3 linked regions of the Homo sapiens genome follow. The protein of the gene in region 1 purifies or fractionates together with the protein of each later gene. This does not show direct contact. Each region holds a gene or a part of one and is shown in the gene's direction. Other genes may lie near its edges.

What was found.
Region 2: the proteins of CSN2 (region 1) and CORO2A purify together in Homo sapiens (affinity purification with mass spectrometry; 2 studies listed by BioGRID and IntAct, with this or other methods). This does not show direct contact.
Region 3: the proteins of CSN2 (region 1) and PPP3CC purify together in Homo sapiens (affinity purification with mass spectrometry; 2 studies listed by BioGRID and IntAct, with this or other methods). This does not show direct contact.

What each region holds. Positions count from the first base shown.
Region 1 is NC_000004.12:69,955,111-69,963,306, reverse strand, and holds the end of CSN2 (beta-casein isoform 1 precursor), read left to right. Parts: intron 1-2,299; 5' UTR 2,300-2,311; coding exon 2,312-2,362; intron 2,363-3,227; coding exon 3,228-3,254; intron 3,255-4,237; coding exon 4,238-4,258; intron 4,259-4,353; coding exon 4,354-4,398; intron 4,399-5,502; coding exon 5,503-6,033; intron 6,034-6,951; coding exon 6,952-6,957; 3' UTR 6,958-6,993; intron 6,994-7,714; 3' UTR 7,715-8,051; downstream 8,052-8,196. UniProt on the Homo sapiens protein: Important role in determination of the surface properties of the casein micelles.
Region 2 is NC_000009.12:98,133,638-98,141,234, reverse strand, and holds part of CORO2A (coronin-2A), read left to right. Parts: intron 1-3,546; coding exon 3,547-3,663; intron 3,664-6,279; coding exon 6,280-6,429; intron 6,430-7,597.
Region 3 is NC_000008.11:22,534,481-22,541,625, forward strand, and holds the end of PPP3CC (serine/threonine-protein phosphatase 2B catalytic subunit gamma isoform), read left to right. Parts: intron 1-4,988; coding exon 4,989-5,018; intron 5,019-5,251; coding exon of another isoform or gene 5,252-5,388; exon of another isoform or gene 5,389-5,456; intron 5,457-6,134; coding exon 6,135-6,322; 3' UTR 6,323-6,645; downstream 6,646-7,145. UniProt on the Homo sapiens protein: Calcium-dependent, calmodulin-stimulated protein phosphatase which plays an essential role in the transduction of intracellular Ca(2+)-mediated signals. Dephosphorylates and activates transcription factor NFATC1.

The sequences.
Region 1 (8,196 bases):
TAGTGCCGCAATAAACATACATGTGTATGTGTCTTTATAGCAGCATGATTTATAATCCTTTGGGTATATACCCAGTAATGGGATGGCTAGGTCAAATGGTATTCCTAGCTCTAGATCCCTGAGGAATCGCCACACTGACTTCCACAATGGTTGAACTAGTTTACAGTCCCACCAACAGTGTAAAAGTGTTCCTATTTCTCCACATCCTCTCCAGCACCTGTTGTTTCCTGACTTTTTAATGATCGCCATTCTAACTGGTGTGAGATGGTATCTCATTGTGGTTTTGATTTGCATTTCTCTGATGGCCAGTGATGATGAGCATTTTTTCATGTGATTTTTGGCTGTATAAATGTCTTCTTTTGAGAAGTGTTTGTTCATATCCTTTGCCCACTTTTTGATGGGGTTGTTTGTTTTTTTCTTGTAAATTTGTTGGAGTTCATTGTAGATTCTGGATATTAGCCCTTTGTCAGATGAGTAGATTGCAAAAATTTTCTCTCATTCTGCAGGTTGCCTGTTCACTCTGATGGTAGTTTCTTTTGCTGTGCAGAAGTTCTTTAGTTTAATTAGATCCCATTTGTCAATTTTGGCTTTTGTTGCCATTGCTTTTGGTCTTTTACACATGAAGTCCTTGCCCATGCCTATGTCCTGAATGGTATTGCCTAGGTTTTCTTCTAGGGTTTTTATGGTTTTAGGTCTGACATGTAAGTCTTTAATCCACCTTGAATTAATTTTTGTATAAGGTGTAAGGAAGGGACCCGGTTTCAGCTTTCTACATATGGCTAGCCAGTTTTCCCAGCACCATTTATTAAATAGGGAATCCTTTCCCCATTGCTTGTTTTTGTCAGCTTTGTCAAAGATCAGATAGTTGTAGACATGCGGCATTATTTCTGAGGGCTCTTTCCTGTTCCATTGGTCTTGGTATCAGTTTTGGTACCAAGTACCATGCTGTTTTGGTTACTGTAGCCTTGTAGTATAGTTTGAAGTCAGGTAGCATGATGCCTCCAGCTTTGTTCTTTTGGCTTAGGATTTACTTGGCAATGTGGCCTCTTTTTTGGTTCCATATGAACTTTAAAGTAGTTTTTTTCAATTCTGTGAAGAAAGTCATTGGTAGCTTAATGGGGATGGCATTGAATCTATAAATTACCTTGGGCAGTATGGCCATTTTCATGATATTGATTCTTCCTACCCATGAGCATGGAATGTTCTTCCATTTGTTTGTATCCTCTTTTATTTCCTTGAGCAGTGGTTTGTAGTTCTCCTTGGAGAGGTCCTTCTCATCCCTTGTAAGTTGGATTCCTAGGGATTTTATTCTCTTTGAAGCAATTTTGAATGGGAGTTCACTCATGATTTGGCTCTCTGTTTGTCTGTTATTGGTGTATATGAATGCTTGTGATTTTTGCACATTGATTTTGTATCCTGAGACTTTGCTGAAGTTGCTTATCAGCTTAAGGAGACTTTGGGCTGAGACGATGGGGTTTTCTAGATACACAGTCATGTCATCTGCAAACAGGGACAATTTGACTTCCTCTTTTCCTAATTGAATGACCTTTATTTCCTTCTCCTGCCTAATTGCCCTGGCCAGAACTTCCAACACTATGTTGAATAGGAGTGGTGAGAGAGGGCATCCCTGTCTTGTGCCAATTTTTAACGGGAATGCTTCCAGTTTTTGTCCATTCAGTATGATATTGGCAGTGGGTTTGTCATAGATAGCTCTTATTATTTTGAGATATGTCCCATCAATACCTAAATTATTGAGAGTTTTTAGCATGAAGTGTTGTTGAATTTTGTCAAAGGCCTTTTCTGCATCTATTGAGATAATCATGTGGTTTTTGTCTTTGGTTTTGTTTATATGCTGGATTACATTTATTGATTTTCGTATGTTGAACCAGCCTTGCATCCCAGGGATGAAGCCCACTTGATCATGGTGGATAAGCTTTTTGATGTGTTGCATAAATCTTTCCATACATATTTATAACTTCTTTATGCCTTTTGAAAAATTCAATACTGTAAATGGGACTTTTTTAAAAGTGGGGATAGAGTTGTTAGCTGAAAAATCTGAATAGCTGGCAATGAAGTTTGGAATTTGAAAAATGAGAATCGCAAGCCAGAATGGATTTTGACCTCCTTCATGTGATATAACTTCTATTTAGTATTTATTCTATTTATTTTCTAAATGCAGATATTTTTGTTATATATTATCTCTCTTTTTTTTTTGTTTTATAAAAAGTAACCTTACCTACATAAGAAAGTATATCCAATTGACCAATCTTCCACCATTCCATTTTTTCTACATTCACAGGACTTAGTAGCCATGAAGGTCCTCATCCTCGCCTGCCTGGTGGCTCTTGCTCTTGCAAGGGAGGTATGTGCACAAGAAAAAATTCCTAAACAATCAATAAATAGTGGACTATATGCTTATTTGTAGAGAATAACATCACCAACATTTTTTACTGTATAAATAATGAAGAATTTCATGAGAATTCTCTTGGCTTCTATCAAAATCATTTATATTTACCCACTGTCTCAACAGTTTCCTATAGTGCCCCAAATGCTTCCTGCACCAATGTGCTGCTAGTCACTAAAGAAAAAGCAAACAAATCAATAAGTAATAAAAAATCATAAAAATGGCAACGAAATATAATATTGCATAAATACAACTCCAAAGATTCTCAAGCTAGATAAATATATCTTATTCCAGTGATAAAATGTATATATACCTTACAGCCTAGGGCACTGGGTCAAATCCTGTGTCTGTCTGTACAAAGACATCCATGGGATGAAGTACAGAGACAATCATAATCATGATCATAAATATATTAATAATAATATAATAAAAATATTTAATACAAATTAAAGTGACTCTTCTTTTACCCATAAAAAACTCTGTCTTTAATAAATGTAAGATAAAAATATATTAATAGATTACTAAATATAAAAGACATTAAAGTAATTACCTTTTAAACCTCAAAAGTCATATAACATTTTTTATTTCTCAAATTTGTGAAAGAGATAGCTCTGCATAAGTGATGTAAAAATTAAGTAGGATGCATGTTTAACAATGAGTTAGCTATAGAAGTTGAATTTTTAAACATCTTTTCAGAAGGAACAATCCAATGCATCCTCTGAGGTGAGATTATTTTTTTAGAGAAAATTTATGAACCATAAAATAGTAAAATTCTCTAATGATCTAGAAGATTTAGCTGGTTGTCAATTTTTTTTTCCCACAGACCATAGAAAGCCTTTCAAGCAGTGAGGTAAGTTAACATTCTACCCAATTTTAGAACAGTAAAATCCTGTGCTATTTTTCTATGGTGTTACATCATGGCAGTTAAGCTAATGCAGCTATGTTAATGACATATAAGTTCTAGTACATATTTCTTTTATGTGTGTTTAAGGACAATAAGTATCTGGATAATACAACATTCTAGAACTTTGTAAATTGGCTTGCTACTTGAAATTGTGTTATTTTGCTTCTTTTTTTTTTAATGAACCATATTGTCCTGTTTTCTGCCTTGAACTCTCTTTACTCTGAACTTATTCACCTTAAGCATATACTGACGGCCTTCTATGGGTCAGACATTGACTAGGAGCTGTGGTACAAACTGAAAAGTTAGAGATGCCAGTGATAGTTAAGAGCTTGCTAAGTAGTAGGTAGGCAGACGTGCAAAAAGGACACATTTTATAATTACAATAGCCACTTTAGTAAATAAGCGAGATTTAGTGTAGTCCTAAATTTACCTGAGAGAGTCAGGTAGATATTTATTCTTACACCACTCTTCTTGGGTGTGTGATCACTTGATAAGTAAATGGTACATCAATAGATTCTGTCTCTTCAGAAAGGTTATATGATCCTTAAGGGAAGTGTTTAACTCTTATGATTCATTTGAAGTGATCATAATGTATCAATTGTTATTAGAATATATTTTCAATGAGTATTTCTTTTTTTAAAAATCAGATGGGGTTTTAGATATCATTTGTTGTCAGGGAATGAGCATGGTGGTAGAGAGAAATTAGCATCTATTAATTGCTTTTTTTTGTACCATGTCCTTCTTGACTGCATTCATCTGACTTTCTTTTACATAACAAGCTCATATAGAACAGTTTAATACATAAGTTTAATGATTATACAAAGTTATTAATGATATTATCAAAGAATTAATGCCTTTATTTCCTGATTTATATTGCAAAGTAAGAATTGTTAAAACTAAACCTAATTTTATTTTATATTTTTCTGTAGGAATCTATTACAGAATACAAGGTAAATTTTCACATTTAAAATGTACACATTTTCAAAATTTCCTCCTTTTAATCTTTACAGATGGTAACATATCTTTATATATGATATATCTTTAGCAGAAAGTTGAGAAGGTTAAACATGAGGACCAGCAGCAAGGAGAGGTAATTTGTTAATGATAAGTATATGTTTAAAATTATTATAAAGTATAATACATACAAAAATATTTATAATGTGTATGTTGATTCTAAAGAATGATAATAAAATAAATGCCATATACCCACCAACCACTTTAAAAATTAAACATTGATAAAGTCAATATATTTTCTAGGATATGCATGCATTTTTAAACTCATAATTAATTTCTAGAATACAGACTAAATACATAATGATATTACTAATGGTATATCTGTTTTCAACAAGTACACATTGGTGGGAACATTTCCAGGTTGGGAACTATGATCCTCTTATTTCCAAGGTGGATATGGTAATGAAAAGGTGTATACGGCTGGTAAAAAAACCTATGTAAAATTTGTCCCATATTGCCTTTATTCCCATATGGACAACACAAAATCCTGTATTTCATTAAATTACATTTATGGTGATATGTTTACCCAATTATAATTTTCAATTGCTTTGTGTACCAATGAATTGTTTGGAGTCACATAAAATATTTCTAAAATCAAATTTAAACAAAAAAATTGATGTCTCTTGAAAGACTCAAGAGACTATCTTCTCCCAAGGGAAGGAATGTAAGAATTTGGCCGGTGTTAAATTACTTCCTGAGATTAGCCACAAATTAAGACTGATTTTCTTTTTCATCAAACCAAAACAAAACAAAAATAAACCTTGGAATTGTCCCTCTAAGTCTTTTTAAACTGATCTCTTTTCACTGTATGAAAACAATTTGGTCTACTATTGGCACAACTGTGTTGAAAAGTAAATTCTCTCTGAAGACCAAAGTGTACAGCTACAGCTATCCAGGCAATTCAGGAAAATGTTAAAAAAAGTGTTTCTGAAATATCCAAACATTGATTTCACTTTGGCCTGTGGAGTTACCCATGAAGTGAGTGGATTAAAATTTTTCAACAAACAGTTTACTCATTTTTCTTCGCATGACTCAAGATACTTTCTTAACCAAAATAAGTGAAATATTTTCTCCTCTCTTTTTACTCATTTATCATTGTCTAAAAGAGAGAAATGAATTCATTATGAATGGCAATTATAGCTTAATCAAGGACTCAAAGATTCTTTTTCCTTCTTTCCAGGATGAACACCAGGATAAAATCTACCCCTCTTTCCAGCCACAGCCTCTGATCTATCCATTCGTTGAACCTATCCCCTATGGTTTTCTTCCACAAAACATTCTGCCTCTTGCTCAGCCTGCTGTGGTGCTGCCTGTCCCTCAGCCTGAAATAATGGAAGTCCCTAAAGCTAAAGACACTGTCTACACTAAGGGCAGAGTGATGCCTGTCCTTAAATCTCCAACGATACCCTTTTTTGACCCTCAAATCCCAAAACTCACTGATCTTGAAAATCTGCATCTTCCTCTGCCTCTGCTCCAGCCCTTGATGCAGCAGGTCCCTCAGCCTATTCCTCAGACTCTTGCACTTCCCCCTCAGCCCCTGTGGTCTGTTCCTCAGCCCAAAGTCCTGCCTATCCCCCAGCAAGTGGTGCCCTACCCTCAGAGAGCTGTGCCTGTTCAAGCCCTTCTGCTCAACCAAGAACTTCTACTTAACCCCACCCACCAGATCTACCCTGTGACTCAGCCACTTGCCCCAGTTCATAACCCCATTAGTGTAAGTCCAAATTTACTGGCTTTGCTGTTTCATTCAAGATGTGTATGTGATGGTAGAATAAAAGAATAAATGTAGAGTAAATGAATTAAAAAAACAGTTTAGATAAGTGATTCTTTTATTATTATACTTTAAGTTTTAGGGTACATGTGCACAACATGCAGGTTAGTTACATATGTATACATGTGCCATGTTGGTGTGCTGCACCCATTAACTCGTCATTTAACATTAGGTATATCTCCTAATGCTATCCCTACCCCCTACCCCCACCCCACGACAGGTCCAGGTGTGTGATGTTCCCCTTCCTGTGTCCATGTGTTCTCATAGATAAGTGATTCTTAATGCTTACCTATACAATAGAATCACCTGGAGAACTTTTCCCCACAAATCCCAATGCCTAAGCTTACCCAGAGATTCTGATATAATTGTTCTAGTTTTTTGTGTAGAGGAAACTGAGTGTTGAGAAAAAAACTATTGCATGAATTCTGGTTTAATTAGTCTGTTGAGAATTCTGATTTAGATAAAGTAATTAAGGCTTACAAAAGCCGGAATTAAATTTAATAATATGATTGAATTTGGAAAAAAAAGCTAAAAAATGTTCTGTCATTTTCCTTGTGCACATCTCTTTTACACAAGCCTTACTTCACATCTTGTTTTTGCTATAAGTATATATGAAGGCAAAAGACTGAGATGCTTATTTCACTACTTACAACATTCTTAAGGCAAGTTTTCTTACTAAGAGGTTATTTATTTATTTATTTATTTATTTATTTTACACAAGCCTTACTTCACATCTGGTTTTTGCTGTAAATATATATGAAGGCAAAAGACGGAGATGCTTATTTCACTACTTACAACATTCTTAAGGCAAGTTTTCTTACTAAGAGGTTATTTATTTATTTGTATCTGTTTATTTTTAAGGTCTAAGAAGATTTCAAAGTTAATTTTCCCTCCTTATTTTTGGTAAGTTTTGGGAGTTTGGAGATTTAATTGATCATTTTTATACATGATGTCTTTTTACATTTAATTCTCCTAGAGAAGTCCAATACAGTGAAAATTTCATACATACAAGAACTTTTTTTATTAATTATCAATTTAATGGTTGACTATCATTTACTGACCTGAAACTATCTATCTTTTGCATTTCAAATAACTTTAATTTTATTTATGTACTATTGACAGATTTGACTGGCTTGCTTTCAAGGGCCTATATACTTACATTTGATTATCACTATTTTTAGGAAAGACAGAATATATACTTATTTTACTTTTATGGAAATACATTTGAGCTTTTGTCAAAAGCCTATTTGCATTTTTATTTCTAACCTAGCCTTCATAAAATTTGTATTTACTTTACTTAAAATTATCTTTTAATTCATGAGTTAAAATTACTCCAAGTGTAAAGGTTAAAAAGAGGAGAGAACAGCATTGCAATTCTAAGATATAAAGCCTTTTGGGATTATGAAATACCAGACATTTCACTGAAACAATTTCAAGTTCACTAATATTTGATGAACTTTGGTGAAGTTTGGTGAACAAACTTTACATGCCTCCAAACCGCAACAGAATGCATTTGCAATACAATTTCTTTTGTGAATTAGTCACACCAAAGTTAAAAGTGAAGAGAGTTGAATAGTTACGTGTTATAACATAACTAATTATATATTTGCTCTCTATTCCACAGAATTGACTGAGACTGGAAATATGATGCCTTTTCCGTCTTTGTATCACGTTACCCCAAATTAAGTATGTTTGAATGAGTTTATATGGAAAAAATGAACTTTGTCCCTTTATTTATTTTATATATTATGTCATTCATTTAATTTGAAATTTGACTCATGAACTATTTACATTTTCCAAATCTTAATTCAACTAGTACCACAGAAGTTCAATACTCATTTGGAAATGCTACAAACATATCAAACATATGTATACAAATTGTTTCTGGAATTGTGCTTATTTTTATTTCTTTAAGAATCTATTTCCTTTCCAGTCATTTCAATAAATTATTCTTAAGCATATTTCAGTTCTTCTGTCTTTTTTTCAAACCTAATCGGCCTCTTTAATGTTAACTTTGATTTATTATTGATGTTCAAAATAATCCTGGAAGAATGCTTTGAAATTGAATAGAATGTTTTGAATTGAATATTAAAAGATATCAAAAAG
Region 2 (7,597 bases), on another chromosome or scaffold:
CCTGTCCTGCTGTAGAAGAGGCAGAGACCACTTGAAAGAGAGAAAATTTTCACCTCCCTCCATGCACATCACTAACAAAGGACACAAGTCCACATTCTTTCCTTTTTTTTTGGTTCTCTTTCTCCCTCTGAATGTGTAGGTGTGTGTATAATTTTTTGTTTTCAGAACTCTTTGAGGGTAAGTTACATCCATCTTAGCCCTTCATCCCTAAATACTGTTTCCTAAAAATACAAATATTCTCTTACATTACTGCAGTACATTATCAACTTATATAAGTTTAATGTTGTGATAATACTGTAATCTACCGTTCTTGTTTAGATTTGTTAAATAATGTCCTTTATAGCGTTGTCCCCTCCAGTAGGGGATCCAGTCTAGGCGGAGGTGTCTGATCACTTTTTCCTGAGGGGAGAGACCTGGATTAGCCAGAGTATTTCCAGAGGGAGGCACAGGACCACCTCCTCTGTTTGCAGAGCTACTAAAATGCATGCATAGGCCAGGCACGGTGGCCCATGCCTGTAATCCCTAACTTTAGGAGGGCAAGTTGGGAAGATTGTTTGAGCCCAGGAGTTCAAGACCAGCCTGGGCAACATAGCAAGACCCCATCTCTACAAATAATTTTAAAAATTAGCTGAGCTTGGTGACACATGCCTGTAGTTCTTAGCCTGGAACTTGGGAGGGTGAGGTGGGAAGATTGTCTTACCCCGAGTTCGAGGCTACAGTGAATCATGATTGCACCACTGCACTCCAGCCTGGACAACAGAGTGAGACCCTGTCTCTTAAAAAAAAAAAAAACAAGTACAGTGGTCTCTACACAGATGGGGAGGTGATGGAAGAAGAGAAGGTTGGGTGTTCCCTGAGTCCACCCTGTTCTTGAAAGTCCCTCTAGAAAAAATCCCAAGACTATTGATTCTGCAAAGTCAAGGACTATGTTGAGTGTTCACCTTGCAATCAGCCCCTCCAACAGCACCTGTCCCCTGGGCACCTCGGGAATATTTGTGGGATGGATGGATGTTGGCCAGTTTTCTTCTCAGCTGTCTCTTTCACTTAGATATAAAAATGGCTGGGGGAGCATTCTGGTGGGTGGCTCAAGAACCTGGAACTAGATGGTGGATGTGGGAGGTCGAGGGCCTGGGTCCTGGTCCCTGTTCTGCCAGGGCCATGCAATGTGATGTGCAAAATGAGCAGATTGGTCACTGCCAGTCCAAGGTTCTGTGACTGAACTGGTGTGGTTTCTCTATGACCCCAAGAAATCCAAGTCTCTTGGTGGAGTTGGAAATAGCTTCAGGGCTGTGTGGCATGGGCTGGGGGACCTGTATGTCCCTCCCAGCACCTATACAGGAATTCTCATTAGGAAAGGGGAAAATGAGGGAAATGCCCTTTCTATGTAATTGAGGTAGAATTCACATACCAGAAAATTCACCGTGTTTTGTTTTTTGTTTGAGACAGGGTCCCATTCTGTTGCCCAGGCTGGAGTGCAGTGGCACAATCATAGCTGACTGCAGCCTCGACCTCCCAGGCTCAAGCAATCCTCCCACCTCAGCCTCCCAAGTAGCTGGAACTACAGGTGTGCGACACCATGCCTGGCTATTTATTTATTTATTTATTTTTGAGACGGAGTCTCACTCTATTGCCCAGGCTGGAACGCAGTGGCACAATCTCAGCTCACCGCAACCTCCACCTCCTGGGTTCGAGTGATTCTCCTGCCTCAGTCTCCCAAGTAGCTTGGATTACAGGCATGTGCCACCACGCCCGGCTAATTTTGTATTTTTAGTAGAGGTGGGGTTTCACCATATTGACCAGGCTGGTCTCAAACTCCTGACATCAGGTGATCCACCCATCTTGGCCTCCCAAAGTGCTGGGATTACAGCCGTGAGCCACCATGCCAGGCCTAATTTTTTGATTTTTTGTAGAGACGGGGTTTTGTCCTGTTGCCATGTTGGAAAATTCACCGTTTTAAGGTGTATAGTTCAGTGGATCTTAGTATATTCACAAGGTTGTGAATATACTGTGAATAAACTGTCACCACCACCTAATTTCAAAATCATTTTGTCACTCCAAAAAGACACCCCTCACTCATTAGCAGTCACCCCCTATTGCCCCTTCTCCCAAGCCTGAGGCAACCAGAATCTTGCCTTCTGTCTCCATGAATGTATCGTTCTGCATTTTTCTTTCTTTTTTTTTTTTTTTTTGAGACAGAATCTTGCTCTGTCGCCAGGCTGTAGTGCAGTGGCATGATCTTGGCTCACTGCAACCTCTGCCTCCTGGGTTCAAGCGATTCTACTGCCTCAGCCTCCCGAGTAGCTGGGACTACAGGCGTGCACCACCACGCCGGGCTAATTTTTTGTATTTTAGTAGAGACAGGGTTTCACCATGTTGGCCAGGATGGTCTCGATCTCCTGACCTCGTGATCCACCCGCCTCGGCCCCCCAAAGTGCTGGGATTACAGTCGTGAGCCACCGCGCCCAGCCCGTTCTGCATTTTTCATATGCATTACTTAGGGTTCCAGATACCAGGTACCAGGGGGATGCATTAATGTGCTCAGGCAATGAAACCACATCTGGAACATCATCTAAGTGGAATCACACAACGTGTGGCCTTTTGTGCCTGGCCTCTTCTTCTAGTGTTTTCTAGGTTAATCCATGCTGTAGCAGGGACCAGTACTTCATTCCTCTTTTTAGGGACAGTAGTATTCTGCTGCATGAATATACTGCATTTTGTATGTCCATTCTTCACTTGATGGGCATTTGGGTTGTTTCCACTTTCTGATATTATGAAGAATATTGTTGTGAACATTGGTGAACCAGTTTCTTTTTTTTTTTTTTTGAGACATAGTTTCACTCTTGTCACCCAGGCTGGAGTGCAATGGCGCAATCAGAGCTCACTGCAACCTCCACCTCCCAGGTTCAAGTGTTCTACCTCAGCCTCCTGAGTAGCTGGGATTACAGGTGCATGCTACCACGCCCGGCTAATTTTTGTATTTTTAGTAGAGACAGGGTTTCACCATGTTGGCCAGGCTGGTCTCGAACTCCTGACCTCAGGTGATCCACCCACCTTGGCCTCCCAAAGTGCTGGGATTAGGTGAAACAGTTTCTTGCGGACTTATCTTTTCATTTTCCATGGAGATAGACCTAGGAGTGGAATTGCTGGGTCATGTGGGAACCGGTTAACCTTTTGAGGAACTGCCAGACTATTTTCCAAAAGAGCTGCACCATTTTACATGCCTACCAGCAGTGTGTGAGGGGAAATGCCCTTTTATTGAACATCTGCCATGTGCTAGGCACTGTGCCATACCTCCTCTCCCATGATCCTCACACCAACCTGTGAAATACCTGTGATTGCTCCCTTTTACTGAGGAGGACACCAGAGCTCAGAGAAGTGAAGTAACTCCCCCAGGATCCCACAGGGAATAAGAAGTAAGGCCTAGATTCACACCCAGCTCTGTCCCTTATGTTTTCCTGTTGACTGGTTGCTAACTGACTATGTGACTGTCCAGATGCTAATGTGGAATCCACCTCCTCCCCAACCCTCCTGGGCACTGTCTTGCAGACAGGGAAGTTGGACCCCCACTACCCAAAAGTCTGCGGGCACAGAGGCAACGTTTTGGATGTCAAGTGGAACCCTTTTGATGATTTTGAGATCGCCTCCTGTTCTGAAGATGCCACAGTGAGTGTCAGCCCCTGAGGGGCTTCCCCTTCCTGAAGAGTGGGATTGGGGTGGTTGGGGTGGAATGGTACCTGTTCTTGGCTCTGGTGCCCCTGACTCCATCGCGGAGGTGAGGTCACTGTGTGGGGAGGTGTTAAGTTAAGGTAGAGGAGGAGACATTCTTGGTGCTGTAGGACTAGCGGCACCACCCCTCCTCTCTATGGGCCTTAGTTCCCCCCCATATAAAATGGGCATAATAGTTCCACCCAGCTAATAAAGCCCAGTGAAAATGTATATTCCGATGGGAAAACCCATCCTTCGGGGAGCTATAAAAGGCTATGAGGGGCATTTTTATGGTGATCAGAAAAGATGTTCCACTTAATCCCATAGTGAGGAAGCGAGCTATAAAAGGCTGTGAGGGCCTTGGATGAATGTGGACACTAAAACCATTCCAGCAGCTTCAGTCTCACTCACTTTTTTGAGCCCGTGTTCTGTACCAGGGTTATCATCCCTGCCCCAACAATGTTCAGTGTTACTTATTTACAATTCATTTTGTACCCACTTCTAAAATATGGTGGTATGGCTTAAGACAAGAACCACAGATATGCCAGGTTCAGTGGCTCACACCTGTAATCTCAGCACTTTGGGAGACTGAGGTGGGAGAATCACTTGAGGCCAGGAGTTGGAGACCAACCTAGGCAACATAGTGAGACCCTGTCTCTATTAAAAAATTAAAAAACACAGATATGATCAGATGATTAAAATAAAGATAAAAGTCATTGTCACCATTTATTGTGAGCCCACTGTATTCCTAACTGTCATCACACTTATCATTTCACAGTCTCCCCAGCAACCCCACAAGGTAGGATATTTTTCTGATGGAGAAGCTGAGGATCAGAGAGGTACAGCAATTTGCCTAATGTTACACAGCCTGTGGGAGGCAGAGCAAGACTTCAGACTGAGGCCTGTCTGATTCCACAGCCCATTCTCTTTCCAATGTGCTGTGACACATCTTTAAAGAGAAGCAGCCACAGATGGAGAAACTGAGGAAATACTAGAAATGATGGCTAAGAAGGGTTGCAGCAGCTAAGCTGCTAGTTTAGCTAAGAGCTACCTGGCAGCCAAGGCAAAATGGGCAACAGAATGTATTGCAAAACCTTCAGTTAGATCAAAAGAAGCAGACCAGTTCATCAGGAAAGGAAGGCAGAAAATTCAAAGAGGATTTGTGTCGGTTTCCATATAGCAGATGCTGAGGAACGTAAAGGACAGTGTCTGCCGAGGTGATTTCACCAAAGGGACAATCAGGTCCTGTGAGAATTGGCCCTGTCCCCAGGGAGTATAGGGCCTCTGGCAGGATATCAAATATCTGAAACTGTCCCCACTTTTGTGATACCTGCCTTTTCAGGACTGCTTTGAAGGCTCCCATCAAGATCTTTATAAATCTCTTGCTAGCCTCATTGCCTGCCACTGCCCCTTCCCCGATGCCCCAGGGCAGGACGTGACTGTTGGGGGACTGAAGAAGGAAGGGGCTTTCCTCCCCGAAGCTATGCCCACAGTGAATTTATGGGGTGTTCCTCCCTGCCTTCAGGGCCTGGAGGGCACGGTTGCTCCTCTAGCAGTGGGGAGTCTTCTCTGCTTCAGTGTTGCGGGTGGTACCTTCATCTTCCAAACATACCTCTTCAGAGTGTGTCTTCCTCCCGGGGTTCTATGCAGTGACAGCCCTCATCAGACCGAAGTATCTGGAGCCTGTCACTACTCTCGTGGGGTTGGCTTCCTGGTTTTAAATCCAAGATGACCAGGAAATAAATATTTGCTGAATTGAAAGCAAAGTCGTCTACCTGAAAAACCTGTATACCTCTAAGGGAAACAGTGCATACAATCAACTAGGGGCCAGAGAACCTTGCAGGACCAATAAGGAAGATCAAGTCAGCAGCATCCCAGGATCACCTTGTACTCCATTTGTATACCTCTGTGACAGGGAGCTTACTCTCTGCCATGGCAGCCCCCTCCATCTTCAGACAACACTACTCTGGAAGGAAGTCCCAGCACCTCTTCTCAGGCCCTCACCATGAAATACAGGCCCATGACCCCATCCAGCCCAGCCTCCTGACCTTCAGAGTTTCCTCTTGCAGGCCATCCAGGGTGCACCTCCAAAGCAAGAAGTTTGTCCCTGCCCTGCTGCAGAGACCTCGCCGGCTCCCTAGTGCCTGAGGATGCAGCCTAAACCCTTCATCCTGGCATTTGAGGCTCTACCCTGGGTCTTTGGGACAAGAAGAACACTGTACTTTGGGGATATCCTAGCTTAGGAGACAGGCCTGAAACCCAGCCACCTGCCCACCACCTCAGGCCAGCAGGATGACAAAGATCTCTCAAGGGCAGATTTGGAGGCCTAGACTCATCCCTGGTCAGCGCTGGCCCCTGCTCAGGCTGGAGGAGCTTGGGGAAGCCCCTGTCTGTCTGAGGACCCTCAGCTGCCCCTCCACTGCCCCTCAATGCCCATAGCCACTGAGTGGGAGGTGGCTATGGAGAGAGCTCCCTTGGTCCTTCTGCTGGTCACTGCCAGATCTGTGGCTTAGGCTGGTGACGGTGCCAAGGTGCCCTGGCTAATGCTGCCTTGGGCCCTGTCTCCCCTGCCAGATTAAGATCTGGAGCATCCCCAAGCAGCTGCTGACCAGGAACCTCACGGCCTACAGGAAGGAACTCGTGGGCCACGCGCGCAGAGTAGGCCTGGTGGAGTGGCACCCCACGGCCGCCAACATCCTCTTCAGTGCTGGCTATGACTACAAGGTGAGTCTGGGTATTCTTTCTCTGGGGCAGCCCCAACAAGTTCCCACAAACTGGAATACAATGGAAATGTATTCTGTCACAGTTCTGGAGACCAGAAATCGAAAATCAAGGTGTTGGGAGAGCCAGCTCCCTCCAGATGCCCTAGGGAAGAATCCTTCCATGCCTCTCCCAGCTTCTGGTGGCTCCAGGCATCCTTGGCTATAGCTGCGTCACTCCAGGCTCTGTTTCTGTCTTCACACGGCCTTCTCTCTGTGTACCTGTCTTCCTTATAGGAAGAGGAGAGCAACTATCATTGGATTTAGGGCCCACCTAATCCATTATGATCTCATCTTAACTAATTTCAGCAGCGAAGACCCCATTTCCAAATAAGGTCACATTCTGAGGTTCCAGGTGGACATGAGTTTTGGGGGGAACCCTGTTCAACTCATTATAGCCTGCCCGGAGTGGATGGGATGGCACTGCCCAGAAAATCGTTCCCCCGACCCTGCTCCACTGACAATCAAGCATGCAGGCAGTAGGCCCTGTAGATTGGGACCCACAGTACAGGAGACCTCAATTCTATTCCGACTCAGTCTCTGACCTGCACTATAGCCTGGGAAAGTGCCTTGACTTCTCTAGGCCTCAGTTTCCCAATCTGTACACAAATGGAATTGGTGGCACCATAGCTATGGCCTTTCAGTTCTTTCCTTTTGACACTATAGGGGTTTACAGAGACACCTCGGGACCCTCTGTGTTGGATAAAAGGGAGGTGGGGGGCCGGACATGGTGGCTCACACCTGTAATCCCAACAGTTTGAGAGGCTGAGGTGGGAGGATCACTTGAGCCCAAGGATTTGAGACCAGCCAACATAGTGAGACCCCATCTCTACAAAAAAATAGAAAAAATTAGCCAGGTGTGGGAAAATGCGTCAAGTAGTCCCAGCTACTCAGGAGGCTGAGGTGGGAGGATCACTTGAGCCCAGGAGGTTGATGCTACAGTGAGCCATGATCATGCCACTGTACTGCAGCCTGGGCAATCCTGTCTCAAAAATAAATAACTAAAATTGTTGTGGGGAGCACTGAGGGAACCTGGGCCCTCGCTCTTCCGATCCACAGCGCTTTCTCATCTGTTTGTATGGGGTGTCTGCAGAGCTGCTGCGTGTATTTGTGCTGGTTGTTCTATACCCAAC
Region 3 (7,145 bases), on another chromosome or scaffold:
ACTAGGTATGTTGCTAAAGGGCTTGTAAATTGATTCAAGCGCTTTAGAAAACTACTGGGCAGTAAAGCTAAACATATGTCTACCCTGTAACCCAGCAGTTCCACACCTGGTGTATATCCAAGAGAAACTGGATGTGTTCACCAAAGGTTATGCATGGGAATGTTCACTGTAGCTTTATTCATAATAGCTCAAAGCTGGAAACAACCCAGATGTCCATCAGTAGCAGACTACATAAATAAATTGTATTCCGAAATATAAATAAATAAACTGTATTCTATTTATACAATGGAATAATACTCAGCAATAAAAAATAACACATTATGGACACATGCTACAACATGGTTGAATCTCATAGACATTACAGAAAACTGCAAAAGCCAGACATAAAAGAGCACAGACTGTCTGATTTATATAATATTTAAGAACCATTGGACTAATCAGTGATAATAAAGTCAGAATGTCACTTCCTCTGGTGGGAGAATATTGTCCCAGAAGGGCACAGGGAACATCTAGAGTGTTAGGAATGTTCTGTATCATTATCATGGTGGTAGTTAGACATGCGTATACTTATGTAAGAATGTGTTGAGCTGTACACTTCAGATTTGTGCACCTGCTGTGCCTCGTGTATATTTTGTACCTTAAAGAAAACAGTTTGAGGGGGTTGCAGTTTCTCAATCAGAGAGGGAGTTTGCCTCTTTCCCTGCAGCCATATTCTATTCCAGTGCCAAAATCACCTCTTCAATCAGAGTACCAATTCTGAAATTTACCCAGGAGCTGACTTCTTAGGAAAGGGCTTTCTGGAATCCCGGAATGAAAAGGTTGATGTTCGTGAGAATAAACATGCAAGGGGAAGAGACAGGAGATCATATTACTGGGTGACTAACACTAGGTATGAAAATTGGTATTGAAGCATTAATATCTTAAACTAAAGTTTAACTGCTTTTTTTGCTCCCCTTGTTTTGTTGAATTGTTTCTATTTAGTTTTTTTCCCACCTCATCGTTCATCTGGCCTTTTTTCTTTTTCTTTTTTTTTCCCAAGAGACAGAGTTGCCCAGGCTAGAATGTAATGGCTAGGTACTGTCATAGCTCATGGCAGCGCCCGGTTGCTGGGCTCCAGCAATCCCCCTGCCTCAGCTACTCGAGTGGCTGGGACTACAGGCATGTGCCACTGTGCCTGGCCATCCTGCCATTTATAGGAGTCCTTTTTCTTTTGTAGAAATTTCATTGCTATTGACTAACAGGGACAAACCCATTTTTTTTCTTTTCTTGGAGACAGAGTCTTGGTCTGTTGCCCACGCTGGAGTGCAGTGGCACGATCTTGCCTCACTGCAATCTCCGCCTCCCAGGTTCAAGCAATTCTCCTGCCTCAGCCTCCCAAGTAGTTGGAACTACAGGCGTACACCGCCATGCCCGGATAATTTTTTATATTTTAGTAGAGATGGGGTTTCACCATGTTGCCCAGGCTGGTCTGGAACTCCTGAGGTCAGGCAATATGCCCGCCTCAGCCTCCCAAAGTGCTAGGATTACAGGCGTGAGCCACCGTGCCCAGCCCTTTTTTCTTTTTATAAGATTGAATTCCTCCTTCTCTTTCAAATAGAATACTGAGATATTAGAGTTCAGCTATTTAGAAGGAAGTCTGAACATTTTCTCTTTGGAAGTATAGTTTATTTTCCTAGTTCCTTTAGTTTCACAGAAAGTATCAGTAAACTATTTCCGATTGAATATTTTTCTCAAATAAATGTGCAGTTTTTTGTGAGCAGAATATGTTCCCACCATTGCTTTGCTTGGTAATTAGTCATCTGAGATATTCCGAGAGCAACTCTGACAACAAAGATAGAGTAATAGGCAGTAACATGAGTTAAGAGAAAAAAAGGAATGTCCTATAGCATCCTTAGGTAAACATTATGAAAATTTGCTGATCCACAAAATTGTTTTAATTGAAACCAACTTTGTCTAAACCTTGAGAAAGCAAATCTGCAAATCAGGGCTGAGCAACAGAATTATATAGCTATGTTATTTGGAAATTTGTTTCTAATTCTTGGTCACCTTTTGGGCTCAGCCCCAAAGTATGAGTTGAATATGAGTGTTTTAATCAAGATAGGACCATTGATTGATACTTCCAAAGTTGATAGAAATCTTCAGTAATGTGTGAGAACAAAGGTAAAGTTGGAGCCAACTTTTTAGAGTTTCTTATTCTTATTGATTCACAGGAAGTGAGTTTATTTTGTTATTTTCACATTGGAGTCTCAGTTCCACCAGCTCATTGGCTAACTGGAGCATTAACTAAAAAAGACCTTTTATTGTTCATATAACTTAACTTGGAGAGCTTTCAACCAACAGTATCCCATATGGCCATGTAACATACATTCATGTATGTCTCACCTTGATCTAAGAGGGATTGGCGTGAGTTACAGTATACATGAAACATAGTGGAGTAAAATAAATATGCTTGGAAATTGAAGCACAAAGGTAAATAAAAATAAAGCCAATAGCCACAAATTTGACTCTAAGCATCCCAGTAGCCAAAATAGTGGGGAAAGCCAAGGACAGGACAAGATTCACAAAGACCATCAGATTAAAACAGATCAGTTATAAATTGGACTACATCAAAATTAAAAACTCTGTACTGCAAATGGTACTATCAAGAAAATGAAAAGACATCCCACAGAATGGTTGAAAATGTTTTCAAATCATATATCTCCTAAGAGATTGGTATCTAGAAAATATACTCTTACAACTGAATAAGAAGACAACCCAGTTAAAAATGGGTAAAGAATTGAATTGACATTTTTCCCATGAAGACATACAAATGGCACATGAAATGATGTTTGACATCATTAGACATTCAGAAAATGCTAATCAAAACCACAATGGGATACCACTTCACAGTCAGTAGGATGGCTGTGAAAAGACAGCAGTTAATAAGAAGTGTTGATGAGAATGTGGAGAAATTGGGACCTTCTTAACACTGCTGGTGGAAATGTAAAATGGTACAGCTGCTTTGGAAAACATTCTGACAGGTCTTCAAATGATTAAACATAGAATTGACTTATTACTCAGCAATTCCAGTCATAGCTACATACCCCACAAAGAAATGAAAATATGTCCTCGCAAAAACTTGTACACAAATGTTCATAAATGGCATTCAACATAATAGCCAAAAAGCAGAAAAAAGCAATTGTCCATAAACTGGATAAACAAAATGTGGTAAACGCAATGGAATACTATTCAGCCATAAAAAGGAATTAAATGCAGGTATACATGTCAACATGACTGAACCTTGAAAACATTATGCTAAGTGAAAGAAGTCAGTCACTACAGACCACATATTATATGATGCCACTCATTTGAAATGTCCAGAACAGACCAATCTAGAGAGAAAGTAGATTCGTGTTCAACCAGGATTAAGGGGAAGAGGTGAGGGAAGGAAATGGGAAGTGAGTGCTAATAAGTGGGGGATTTCTCATTGGGGCAATGAAAATATTCTAAGCACAGATTGTGGTGATGGTTGCACAGCTCTACTATATTAAAACCATTGACTTGTATACTTTAAACAAGTGAGTTTTGTGGTATATGAATTCTATTTCAGTTAAGATGTTAAAAAGGAAAACAAAAGTTCGGGTCATTTGATATGACTGTTTCTTATAATGGCCCTTACTGCAGGCTGCTATCTTTATACCCAATGTGAATAGCAATTCTGGGAGGGCCCCAAACAAGGTAATATCATACACATTTTACCGTGTAGCTTTTAAGCTCTAATTAGACCAACACTCAGTGTAGAGTTTCAGCAATGCTTTGTTCTCCCACTTCCTAACAGTTACATCAGTGATGTGCTGTGAGAAGGCACTGTAGCTTTCTTGTCAAGGGTATTTGTTCTACTTAAGGAGATTAGAGAGGGTGTGACAGTGATTTAATACATGCCTGCCTATGGTTGACAAATGAAAGCACTTCATAAGTAGATTTCAGTTATCCATTTTTCACATTCCATTAGGTAGTTAATGTAGTTCTTTCAGTTTCTCTTCTCATATTGATATATAAAGCCTTGGGAATAGCAGCAAACTGTTACTGCTCATTATTCTTCACTGCCTTCTTTTGGCAAATTGGTACTGGAGTAACTGACAGGGTTCTCCTAATAGGATCTTTCTTGTGGCACCCTGTACCTTTTCATATATTAGCGTTTTTACTGTCTGAGAAAGGAGATGCAAGGAAGTTTACCTGTTGGTACTAATTTTTAAGTTGCTTCCTTTTCCATTGCTAAGAAAGAAGAGGGCTTTCTTAGTTACTGGCCAACTCTCTTGAACACTGTATGGAAGCCATATGGATTGGAAACATTAGCCTCTGCTATATTTTTATAGCAGATGGGTACACACATTTGCATTAGGAATTCAATAGTTCTATGCTTTTGTTAGCTTTGTACTCCACTCCTGGACAAGAAATAACCCTTCACATGGAACCTATTTTTCTCTCCTTCCAAATGCCAGTCTGCTGTTCAAAGGCCACTCTTTTTTTTTTAAATGAAGTAATTAATAGGGCAGTTGGACTCCAAATAAGTCACTTGAGAGCAGTAAGATGTAGTTGTAAATAAGCTTTTTGAATAGGACCCAGCAGTAGCTCATTTAATATCACCTGAGATATTTTACAAACTAAGGATTGTTGTGATGTCAAACTATTTGATTCTACATGTTGTTTCGATACGTGGATATCAAGATATAAAGTAGCAGTTGGCTACCTAAAATGAAAAGAGCAATGTTCCATGGCACCTGAAATGTTAAAAATATTAGAAACTCTCCCCCACCCCATATTCCTCCCACCCCAATTGAGTCTCTCGCAATAATCTTCTCGCTTCTCTAACTAGTTGACTTTCATTATGGATGGGGATAGGCTAAAAAACGGGCCCCTGGGATGGCTGTGCTGCCATCAGTGCTGTTGGTTTACTCACTCTTTTTCTGTCTTCGTTTTTGCATGCTACTGCTCCTGCCCTCTTACAGCCACAGTAGAAGCGGTAGAGGCCCGGGAAGGTATGGCCATATTACTCTGATAGATGTGATCCATGTGTCTGTGTACTGGTTTTTCGAAGCTTTATCAACATTTCAAATATTTTATTATTGCATCACCAGAACTATAACAGTGAGAAAAGGTATAGTTGTTTCTAGGCATGTTAACGAAGCAGGTGTTTCCTTTGTGTCCTATCTTTGCATTAATTTTAAATAACCTTCACCACAGCTACAGTTTTTTTTCTGGGCTCTATCAGCTTTAATGCAACGGCAGAAGCTTAAGCAACTGGTCATGAGAGGTCAAGTGGTTTACTTCTGTATCCCTTCCATGTACAAGAGACATCCATTTGATTCTCAAGAGAGCCAAATAGGTCAGCCTCTTCAGCGATTCTAAAAGATTTCAAGAGCAGAGGCAGAAGTAGACTGGAATTTAGTTCAATTCATTTCTGAGGTTGCCCTAAGGTAGGCAAGTTAAATTAACTTTGTTTCTATGAAAACCATTGGAACTGATAAACTTGTATTATACTTGTAATTGTTTTATTAGGTAAGATGGTTCAAAACGCGAATGCCTTAACTTGGTGTTATAAAAGTTGAATCGGAAGGAAAATATGTAGAAGCTATTTTTAAGTTTTTAACTTATGTACAGCTCCTGGTTGTGCAAGATAGAAAGCTGTCCTAAACGAAAAGATTAGCTCTTTTGTTACTTTTTTTTGTGGTCTATGTGGCCTTTGTGCGAAAAGCAACTACCCTGGGTTTAACTTGTTCAATTATTCTAGTGTTGCCTTTGTTCTAGCATTGAGTATGTTTCTGGTGCATAAGACACTCTTTCTTAAAGGTACTGGGGCCCAGTAAGTACTTGTTAGCTTTTTGTTAGGTATATGTCTACCATGATTATGCATATAGAGCTTTTATGAAAATTACTTTCACAATTTCAGCTGCCCTTTGGGCTTTAAGGAAGCAGTAGCTGCAGCCAAGACTGATTCAGTCAGACATTGCCCATGACTTTCACTAGACGTGTGCTCCATAGCCACCTTTCTGTGTGTTTCTCTAGGAGGTTGCTGTGTGCTAAGAAACTTTTTTTAAGCCTGTTGCTTTGCTGCCTAATTGAGCTCTCTCCACCTGCTTCCTGTTTTTCTGTAGCCATCAGAGGGTTCTCGCTTCAGCACAAGATCCGGAGTTTTGAAGAAGCGCGAGGTCTGGACCGAATTAATGAGCGAATGCCACCCCGAAAGGATAGCATACACGCTGGTGGGCCAATGAAATCTGTAACCTCAGCACACTCACATGCTGCGCACAGGAGCGACCAAGGGAAGAAAGCCCATTCATGACTTAGAGTCCTGCCGTGGCTCAGGTGGATCTAAAACTCAAGAACAAATTCTATTTATTTATTATTGGAAAATGAAAAGCAACTCAAAACAACTTCAACGTGGAGGTGCATTTATAATTCAGTCTGCATTTATTCTGTAAAAAGGTGGCTGTTTTATAAATTCTTTTAATTTATGTTCAATATATATAAAAAGTGCATCTGTTTTGTTTTTCCCTTTTTTCTCCATAATTTTAAGAAATGAATCTGATTGTTGTCAACACATTTGTGAAGTCTTGTGCTATAAAGGGGAACTTCCCCTAATAAAAGGGCCTTGGAAACCTCAAACCTGGGTTTCTGACTTGAACTAGTCAGTCTTCATTATTGTTTTTTGGAAGGTAATGTCTTTCATGTAAGACTAATAACGTTTCAAATGCAAGAAGATTTTTTTCCTTTTCATTTTTTTCCTTTTCTGCTGGGTGCCATTGAAGAAAGTCCTCTTAGATTTCAGTGGCTAAAAGTGCTTCCCTTTTGATGGGAAACTGGATCATAGTAGAACTTCAAAGTGAATAACCCAAATCCAGTGATTTTAAGGGCGAAGGGAAATGTTTTCTATAATAACCTACTTTCTCTGGACTCTCAGTTCGTTTAAATATGTTCTAGTAAACAAAATAAAAAATAATAAGGGATGTTCTTAGATTTACTTAAAATCTGTTCATCTGACCATGGGCATGATTGGTTTAAATTTCCTTAGGACTTTGGAGGAGAAAGATTTTCAGAAAGCTTTCACAATTGCCAGATTATTTTACTTTCATTTTTGAACCCCAGGTGACTTCTGTAAAGGAAGT